2 separate regions of the Homo sapiens genome follow, and region 2 is linked to region 1. A link means that fine-mapping ties the variant in region 1 to the expression of a gene that starts in the linked region. Tissue or cell type: cerebellar hemisphere. Region 1 holds a variant in brackets; the other region holds the start of a gene. All regions are shown on one strand. Distances are from middle to middle.

Region 1 (5,152 bases):
ATTGTTAATGTTTTTGTGGATGTTGACTAATAATTGGTAAACTTGATTCTCACTTCTCCTATGCACTTTTCATAAAGCACTTATACTCATTTTCAGTTTTATCTGAATTCTGCATTTCTTTCTTTCTTTTTTTTTTTTTTTTTTTTTTTGAGATGGAGTCTCGCTCTGTTACCTAGGCTGGAGTGCAGTGGCACGATCTCGGCTCACTGCAAGCTCCGTCTCCTGGGTTCACGCCATTCTCCTGCCTCAGCCTCCCGAGTAGCTGGGACTACAGGCACCCGCCACCATGCCCGGCTAATTTTTTGTATTTTTAGTAGAGACGGGGTTTCACCATGTTCGCCAGGATGGTCTCAATCTCCTGACCTCATGATCCACCCGCCTCAGCCTCCCAAAGTGCCGGGATTACAGGCGTGAGCCACCGCACCCGGCCAGAATTCTGCATTTCTTTCTAAACAGGAAAGGATTCTTTTGTGGTTTCTCAATCTTAACTAACTAAACCTGAGTAAAAAGGTTCAACCAATGAGAACCTTACATTTAACATCAGATTTATTTTATTTTCAGTAATAGATATCACAATTTGGAGACTAATAGGAAGCACGTGCCTGGAAAAAAAAAAATCTGATTAGTCTTTAAGATGGGAACCAGAGTAGCTTCTTATATTGTCTACTACAAGTAGACTTTTCTCTTAAAAGTCTAAGTTGCTATTTTCTAAAAAGACCAAATAAATATTTAGGAATTGTGATAACATAAATGTAAGTCAAGAAATATTAATTGCAGGATTTTTCGGCATGTTGAAATGAAAAAAATATAAGTTGAAAATTCTTTAAGAAGTGTGTACCTATTAAAATGGTATTAAGTGTTCATTCTTGAGTGAAATGTTTAAGGAATAAATAGGAATTATTGCATATGTTTTGTTTTCAGTGGGGAGCAATGGAAGTTTATTAATACCAACATCTGAGAAGCAGTATAATTTGCATCTATATGAGGCACCGACTCTAATTTATTATCAGTAATAAATCCATTTTGTCTCAGGTTAGGAAAGCTGGAGTCATCTTGGCAGTTTGTTGAAGCCAAAACATTGTTTAATATGGTTTTCCAAATTTTATACATCAGAATTTATCTGATTCACCTTTTAATCCCACCTCATACTTTGCCTTGGGATACACATGAAGGACACACTCAATAAAAGTCAAAATGCAGAAGACAAGATGTTTCATGCACTTGATAGACACAATAAAGATTCTATTTGCATAAATGGGCACATTCAGGAAAAATTAAAACACGGAAGGCAAAATGTTTCGGATCATTTTTTATTAATACTTGACTTTGGTCCAAGCCATTCCAGGGATAAAAGAGGCTAGGGTTTATGATCTAATCTCTAATCTAACTCTTGCATTTTCTCTAAGGAGTAATGGATCCTAAACTTTTATTTAATGCACACAATACTTATGCTCTGCTGATTAATATAATTTGAATGGGTTCATTGTAGAATAAATTCAAACAGTGACTTCAATTGAATATGCACTTGAACATTTTGCCCCCAGCTTCCTTTCCTGGTATTTTAAGGTTGTCTTTGACGTAACTAAATGTATGCATGGTATGAACAATTGGCAAATGCAGAAAAGTAGAAGAAGAAAAAATATATCCCACCCGGAGTCTCAACAAAATTCTTGAGTCCCAAATGTTTTGTTCAAAAATCTTTAGAGATTGTTATAAGAGCTCTCTGAGAGGAAACTGAACTTTATTCTTTTGTAGGGGTTATTTCTGTCTTTTGTACGATGTCCAATGCTTGTAGGTTCTATCTATAATCTATCAAGATGAATATACGTCCCCATCATTTGGCATATTTAACAGGCACCGACTCTTTTTTCCTCTCCAATCTCTGTTCGTGAATGGAATGTGCATGCCTTCTGACTGAGAGTGCATTTTCCATGGGTCTTGACAGCTTCCCCATCTTCCTCTTTCTTTTCCCTATTTATTCTTTCCCCTACCCCTACTCCTTTCCTGCTCTGACTTCCCCTTCCCCTCACCCTGCTCTTCCTCTTCTCCTCTCCTCTCCTCTTCATCTCCTCCACCTATGTTTCCCCTCCCTTTCTCTTTCCTTTCTTCTCCCCTCCCTTCTTCACGACTTTTCCTTTCTCCTTTACGCTCCTCCCTCCTTCCCCTGCTTGGAAACCCTGATTGGAGAGAGTCTAAGTTAGAACTAGAGGACAAGAAGTGTAGGACAAGATTATAAACTCTTTCAAGAGGGTTTTCTCTAAAGAGGAGACTACGGAAGATGATAGATCAGAGGCTCCTGGAGGGTGTGGGAACTGATGGATTGAAGCACTTGAAGGAGTGATCCCAGAAGGTAAGAGGTGATTGTCAGAGACTAGGAAACTTGGATTGGTGACAGCGAGGTCTAGAGGGCATGGCAATGGTAGAAGCTGAGATAAGGTGAAGGATATGATCATTAGAAAAGAAGAGATCATTCTGTAGGTTGCCTGTTTACTCTGATGAAAGTTTCTTTTGCTGTGCAGAAGCTCTTTAGTTTAATTAGGTCCCATTTGTCAATTTTGGCTTTTGTTGCCATTGCTTTTGGTGTTTTAGTCATGAGGTCTTTGCCCATGCCTATGTCCTGAGTGGTACTGCCTAGGTTTTCTTCTAGGGTTCACGATAGCAAAGACTTGGAACCAACCCAAATGCCCATTAATGATAGACTGGATACAGAAATTGTGGCACATATGCACCATGAAATACTATGCAGCCATAGAAAAGGATGAGTTCATGTCCTTTGCAGGGACATGGATGAAGCTGGAAACCATCATTCTCAGCAAACTAACACAAGAACAGAAAACCAAACACTGCATGTTCTCACTCATAAGAGGGAGTTAAACAATGAGAATATATGGACACAGGGAGGGGAACATCACACACTGGAGCCTGTCAGAGGGTTGGGGACTAGGGGAGGGATAACATTAGGAGAAATACTTAATGTAGATGACAGGTTGATGGGTACAGCAAACCACCATAACATGTGTATACCTATGTAACACACCTGCATGTTCTGCACCTGTAC[C/A]CCAGAACTTAAAAGTATAATAAAAAAAAAAAGAGAGAAAAGAAAATAAGAGATCAGGAATATAACTCCAGGATACTGGAATGATCATTTACATAGATAAGGAAGTCACTAAGGTGTGGGTATATGTGTGTGTGAGAGAAAGAGAGAGAGAAAAAAGAGAAAGGAGAGAGAGAGAGAATTTAAAAAAGGTTATTGGATATATAATATGATACTTCAAAGGAGCTGGAAGTTTTTAGGAAGGAAGGAGAGAGAATGATCTGGGAAGACAATCAGGAGCAACAGAGACACCTCCTCACCTCCAGTCCCTGTTACAGAAGACAATATAATTTTTATTAGGGCAATCAAGTGAAGGAAAAGTTGCTCAAAAGGAAGTTTAGGATATGAGGGGATTAACTGAAACCATCGTTATTCTAGGGGGCAGGTCCAAGGGTCTATGGGGATAGATTTGGAACACAGCTACATGTGGATAACCCTGGTGGATGAGGGATAACTATAGAGCCTTGGACTTTCTAAGTGATTGCCATCAACAGGAATAGAGGGCATGATGAAATCAATGGAAATGGACTCTAACATACATTGTTGGGTTTGAGTGGGCAGTTGGAGACTCTTACCAGGAAAACTCAGAACACAGACATCGTTGGGGAACCTGCAGAGGCTGGAACAGTGTGAGTGCTCTCTGGTAGCTTCTCTGATGTAATGTTGAGGACAGAGACTCAAAGGTGGCAGAACCGCGGAAATGCAGGTTTCTCTGGATAACTCGTGGCACTTTTTCTGATGGTGATGTTGAGGCTGGCTGAGGTACGGGGGCGTTTTCAGCATCCGCAGTTTAGTGAATATCCTTCCTACTGCTTTCTCATGGTGAATTCAAAGAAGATGAAGAAAACCATGTCACAAGTTGTGCCTGCTCACTTCTCTGGCCGGGGAAATGTGCTCCTAGATAACATGCTCTACCCCGAGCACGTTTGGAGCACACACACATCCCATGATCCAAGAAAGGGGGAAGATCTTTCCCTAAAAAATTAACAAAGGAAGAGTTAATGGATGCTGGGCAGATGGAATTAGAAATTGTGTATAGCTGGTATCAAGGACCCAAATGCTGGGCAGAAGGAATTAGAAATTGTGTATAGCTGGTATCAAGGACCCAAATGCTGGGCAGAAGGAATTAGAAATTGTGTATAGCTGGTATCAGGGACCCAAATAACAATGTGTTAAGCCAATTAAGGCTTCATTTTTCTTTTAACTAAAACAAGGACAGAAGTAGGTAATCCAAAGTTGGTGTAATAGCTCCACTGTCATCAGAGAGCCAGACTTCCTATGTTTTTTGCTATACCATCATGGTGCATGATATGTTCCCACAGTATCATATACTTATACTCTAGTATGCTGGGCTACCATTCCTCATGTCTGTATTGTGGAAGAAAAGGAGAAGGAAGCAGGGAAGGGAAAGAAGTACTCTCTCAATTGAGACAGCCCCCTTTAAAAAGCTTTCCAAGGGCGGGTGCGGTGGCTCACGCCTGTAATCCCAGCACTTTGGGAGGCCGAGGCTGGCGGATCACAAGGTCAGGAGATCAAGACCATCCTGGCTAACACAATTAAACCCCATCTCTAATAAAAAAATTCAAAAAAAAAAATAGCCGGGCGTGGTAGAGGGCGCCTGTAGTCCCAGCTACTCGGGAGGCTGAGGCAGGAGAATGGCGTGAACCCAGGAGGTGGAGCTTGCAGTAAGCTGAGATCACGCCACTGCACTTCAGCCTGGGCAGCAGAGTGAGACTCCATCTCAAAAACAAAAAACAAAACAAAATAAAATAAAATAAAATAAAATAAAATAAAAAAATAAAAAGCTTTCCAGAAGTCCTGCTCAATCTCAGCTATATATTATGGGCTCTCATTAGTTGAGGTAGAGGTGGAGAGTTGTAATCTTTTAGCTGGGCATATTACTATGCTTAATAAAACTGGTGAGAATGGCTATTGGGTGGGCAACTATAAGCCTCTACCACAGCAGCAAAAATAAACTGATGTTAATGCATAAGTCAAGATTCGTATCATGAGCTATGATTGGCAGGAATATTTGTGGGAAGGAGAAGTGAAAAAGCT
Region 2 (5,152 bases), 74 kb before region 1:
AGTTTCACTCTGTTGCCCAGGCTGGAGTGCAGTAGTGCGATCTAGGCTCACTGCAACCTCTGCCCCCTCAGTTCAATGGATCATCCTGCCTCAGCCTCCCGACTAGCTGGGACTTCAGGCATGTGTCACCATGCCCAGCTATTTTTTTTTTTTTTTTTTTTTGTATTTTTAGTAGAGACAGGGGTTCACCACGTTGGTCAGGCTGGTGTCGAACTGCTGACCTCAAATGATCCACCCGCCTCGGCCTCCTGAAGTGTTGGGATTACAGGCATGAGCCACTGTGCCCAGCCTTTCTAATCTTAATGTTTAGTCTAACAAGTTTTTGTCATCTTCTGCATCTATTACTGTGGTATAGGCCAGAGTTTCTCAACCTCACCACTATTGTCATTTGGGGCTAGATGATTCTTTGTTGTGGTGGCTGCCAGTGCATTGTAGGAGGTTTTGTTGCACCCCTTACTCCTATACACTAGATGCCAGTAGCACTGCCCCATCCCCCAAATGTCTCCAGACATTGCCTAAGGTTCCTGGGAGTGAGACATGCAAATCTCTCCCGCTGGGAACCACTGCTTTAGATTAGAGAGCAGAAGGGACTACAGGGCTCTGGGGAGCGGTGGCAAGACTTGGAGCAGCAGTCTTAATAACACTCAGGCAGGACTTCTCTGACTGATGTGTCCCCACTCTCTTACCATGAGGACAAGTAACATAGGCCTGACTGTTCATCCCGTTGGAGGTACACAATGCCAGAGTGCTGTTCTTAGGCGTTCACCCTTGGGGCATGTGTTAGAATTATCCAGAGAGCTTTGAATGTGTCTAGGCCTATGGCAGACATCTCAAAATATTATTAACTTGAGTTGGTGGGGTAAAAGTCTTTCTCAGGTTATAAATCCGAAGAAGAGACTAAATGTGGCATCCAAAAAGAAGCCAAACTGAGAGAAAAATTAAAGACCTAAGTAGTTTTTAATTTCCTTTTCCAAGCCTTTTTGAGACCAGCTGTACCCTCTGCCCTTTCCCTAGTTTAGTTATACTAACCAAAAAATCCCTTTTTGTTTAAATGAGGAGACATTAGGTGCCACTTACTTGCAGCAAGAGTTCTAAAGCAATTGAGTACCTCCTTGGTTTGTGTGGGGAACACAGGAGATGGCACACATTGCAGATGCCACGGTGCTTTGCACATAAAGGGCTTCATGATGTGTTTTAAATAACACAGAGTAGATGATATTTGGAAAAACTTTTTTTTTTTTAAAAAAGTCCCAGCTCAAATGAAGTCTTACTCATTCCCCAGGAAGAACGAGATCTTTCTCCTCCTTGCTCTTTCTTCTCTGCTTTTGCAGTCACCCTACTGCTTTGTAATTGTTTGCAAATCTATGTTCTTTTCTAATGTTCTTTGAACTTCTGGAGGACTGGAACTCAGTCTTATTCACCTTTAAATCCTCCGTATCTAACATGCCAGCACATAGCAGGTGGTCAATAAGTATTGTTAGGAAAATAATTTGAAGAACATTCATGATTAAAGGTGGCAATAAGAGCAACCAGCCAGCATTTATTGAGTACACGCTATGCTCCAAGCATTGTCCTAAGAATTTTACTTTTTTATGACTTAATCCTTATGACAGCCCTTAATATGTTATCGTTATTACTCCATTTTACAAATGAACAAACTGAGTCAAGGCTGTACAACTAATAAATGGCAGAGTCATGATTTCGTCCAGGAAAACTGATGCCAGAGCCCTAACATGTTACACAATACATTGTGATACTTGTCACTGAAAGTATTTTGTTAAATACAGACGGAGTTAAATCATTCACTATTAGAAACAGAGGAAACTGAGATCACTGAATTCCATCATGAAATAGATACTGATGCTGAGCCAAGGATTGGAAGTGACTCAGTTCAGGTGGTTTACATAACCGTAGGCTTACCTACACGGTGTTCCTGACTCCCAGCTGGAATCTTTTAACCAAAGGCCCCACCCTCATGCAAAGTGCACCTTTTCTTTACACGTGCGCTCTCCCCTTTGGAGGTCTTGCTTTGGAAAAACCACCCCAGGTAGCAACTTGTTTCAAAGCAGATATATGCCAGGTACCACTTAAAGCCAGGTGGATCTTATCTGTTGAAATAGATCAAGAACACATGAAAGGGGACTGGGGACCCCCTACTTACACTTCAGACTTCAGCACAAACTTTCTGTCCTCAGAGAAGGCTTCTCTGGCCTCTCCAAGGTCAAGTCTGTCTACCTAAGCTCTCCTTTATTTAGCATGGTCACTTGTAATTACATATATTTTGTATGTTAATATCTGGTTAATGGTCACCTCACTTGTTACCCTTTAAGTTCATTGAGGATAGAATCCCTGTCAATTTTTGTTCCTTATATTTGCAGTGCCTCACATAGTTCCTGGCACACAATGGGTATTCAAAAAATATTTGTTAAAATCAGGAAAGAATGAACAAACAGATGAATGAATAAATGCACGACTGAAGTACCATGACAAATCATTCCTGTGGAACGCATAAGGTTAGATGCAACTCCTTTATGGTGTGATCTGAGGGGGCCCTTAAGGGCTTAATCTGCACGCTCACACACACCACTGATTAGAAATCCCCATCAGGAAAATTGTACAATCATCTATTTGGCGAGGGCTTTGGGACACTGAATGGGGGAAAAGAAACACAAAAGGTGAGCAAGCAGTTTTCAAAGGATGCTTTCAACTCCCTGGCCAGTCCGCGTGTATGTTTTCGTCTACAAAGTGTTTCCAATTACTGTGGCACTCTCGGTATCTGGATCCATCTCCAGTGAATTCCTCTGCAGCTCCTGCCAGACATATGGGATCAATCAGGGCTTCGGCGCTGGTGCGCTTGCTGCGGGAATGTTGACAGCCTGACAGACGCGGGGTTCTGGTGTCATGGAATCTCCGAGCCTTTGGCTTGATCCCGGGAGGAGAATGAGAGGGGGAGGAGGGAGATAGAGTCACAGATACAGAAAGTAGACAGGAGCGGGGAGAGGGAGAGAGGGAGAGAAGGAGGGAAGCGGGAGATTTTTCTTGACTGCCCCCTTTCCTTCAAACATTTTATAGGCTTCAGGGAGAGAGAGGAGGAGGAGAGAGGGAAGAAAAAAAGAGGAGAGCGAGAGGGGTAGAGAGCGCGCGCCGTTCCCTCCGGAGTTCCCGAGCTGCTGAGGAGTCTGGATTGTGTCTGTCCCCAGTGTCAGATGAAAGGGCGCTGAGGCTCTTGGCCGCTGCCCCGCGCCCAGCTCCGCGCACGCCCCTCTGCGAGTCCGGCCGCCCAGCGCCTCTTCCCGCCCGAGCCGCCGCCTGCGCTCCGGGGCAGCCGCTCTGTCTCCAGCGCGATGTGGCCTCGCCTGGCCTTTTGTTGCTGGGGTCTGGCGCTCGTTTCGGGCTGGGCGACCTTTCAGCAGATGTCCCCGTCGCGCAATTTCAGCTTCCGCCTCTTCCCCGAGACCGCGCCCGGGGCCCCCGGGAGTATCCCCGCGCCGCCCGCTCCTGGCGACGAAGCGGCGGGGAGCAGAGTGGAGCGGCTGGGCCAGGCGTTCCGGCGACGCGTGCGGCTGCTGCGGGAGCTCAGCGAGCGCCTGGAGCTTGTCTTCCTGGTGGATGATTCGTCCAGCGTGGGCGAAGTCAACTTCCGCAGCGAGCTCATGTTCGTCCGCAAGCTGCTGTCCGACTTCCCCGTGGTGCCCACGGCCACGCGCGTGGCCATCGTGACCTTCTCGTCCAAGAACTACGTGGTGCCGCGCGTCGATTACATCTCCACCCGCCGCGCGCGCCAGCACAAGTGCGCGCTGCTCCTCCAAGAGATCCCTGCCATCTCCTACCGAGGTGGCGGCACCTACACCAAGGGCGCCTTCCAGCAAGCCGCGGTAAGGCGCCCGCCCCTCCCGACCCGGGCCCTAGTCCCCGGGCCCTTCGACCCACCGCTGCCTGCCCGTCTCTATCCCGGGGTTCAGTCCTGGGCAAGGCATAACCACCCCAAGTCAAGCGTCCCCATCCACAAAACCAGAGTCATCGCTACCCGCCTATTATTGTTGTGGAGGTTCCAATGGGATAATGGATTTTAAAACGCTTAGAGGGATGTCAGGCTCCTTAGATAGTCGGCTTCGAGGACCCTGTTAGGAAGGGATCCTTGAAACGCTAATCACATTCACGTTTGTAGGAGCAGACGGTATCCAAGCTGAAACAGGTGAGCATGGTTTACAAAGTGTTTCTAAAGGTAGGACATGGAGTGATATAAACCTAACCCCAATTCTTTTTAAAGTTATGTTATGCTTTCAATGTAAGATTCGTGCCCTTCCTATTTTTGCTCCAATCCTTTATTAGATTTTTAATATCTGGAAGAGGAAGTCAGTTTGGGATGTCGGACTTTTGTAAAGTGTGTCTGTTTTTCTGATTACAAATTAATCCATATTCAGTGGGGGAAAAAGAAACATATAGAAATATCTAACACATAATAGCAAGCCAGTGTTTGTGGACTGAATTAAACAAAAAGTAGGGAGAGGAAAAAAAAACCCTAAAATTTCATCACTTTAAAAAAGCCACTGTTTGCAGGTTGTTGAACAGTTGCCCAGTATGTACATCCATTCATACTTTTAATATCTTGCTGTTTTGTAGCCTACATTTTTCGTTTGTTATATCCTAATTAAAATGTTCTACATTAGCTGCATACTATTCCATTGCGTGCAACAATCACTTATTGTTGGACACTTAGGATTTTTCCTTACTAAGTTATCGTGAACATAAATATTTGTGGACTCCTCTGTTTACATCTTTAGGAAGAATTTCTATAAAAGTTCCTGAACTAAAGGTTATGAACATTTGTAACTTCTTGATACTATTGTCCATTTCTCCCTTGGAGGGTTGTATAAATTTATATTCTCATCAGCAGAGTATCTCAGCAGTAAATTTGCCACATATTCACCAATATCATACTATTCTTTTTAATATCTTTGTCAATTTAAGAGGTGATGGAGGCATCATTTTAGCAAATACACATTTTTGATTTTTGAGGATGAACATTTTCCAGTACATCTACTGGACATTTGTATTTTTTCCTCTGATATTTATAGTTTTTGCCCATTTTGCCATTATAGTGCTTGTTTGTTTTTTCTTAACACATTGGCTTGTTTTTTTTTCTTAATGA

What was found. PIP is the estimated chance that this variant, and not a neighbour inherited with it, causes the effect.
Region 2: SVEP1 starts here. The variant in region 1 is fine-mapped to the expression of SVEP1 in cerebellar hemisphere (GTEx, PIP 0.98).

The regions. Positions count from the first base shown.
Region 1 is chr9:110,503,758-110,508,909 of GRCh38, reverse strand. All of the region lies in intron 5 of SVEP1 (sushi, von Willebrand factor type A, EGF and pentraxin domain containing 1), which reads left to right. Among named protein-coding and RNA genes, the nearest start is that of SVEP1, 73 kb to the left of the region's middle. The variant C/A (reference allele first, on the strand shown) is at 3,059.
Region 2 is chr9:110,577,736-110,582,887 of GRCh38, reverse strand. It overlaps SVEP1 (sushi, von Willebrand factor type A, EGF and pentraxin domain containing 1), which reads left to right and starts at 3,147. Exons shown (of 48, transcript NM_153366.4): 1 at 3,147-3,875. The coding sequence starts at 3,345. RefSeq lists enhancers at 3,279-3,779, 3,780-4,280.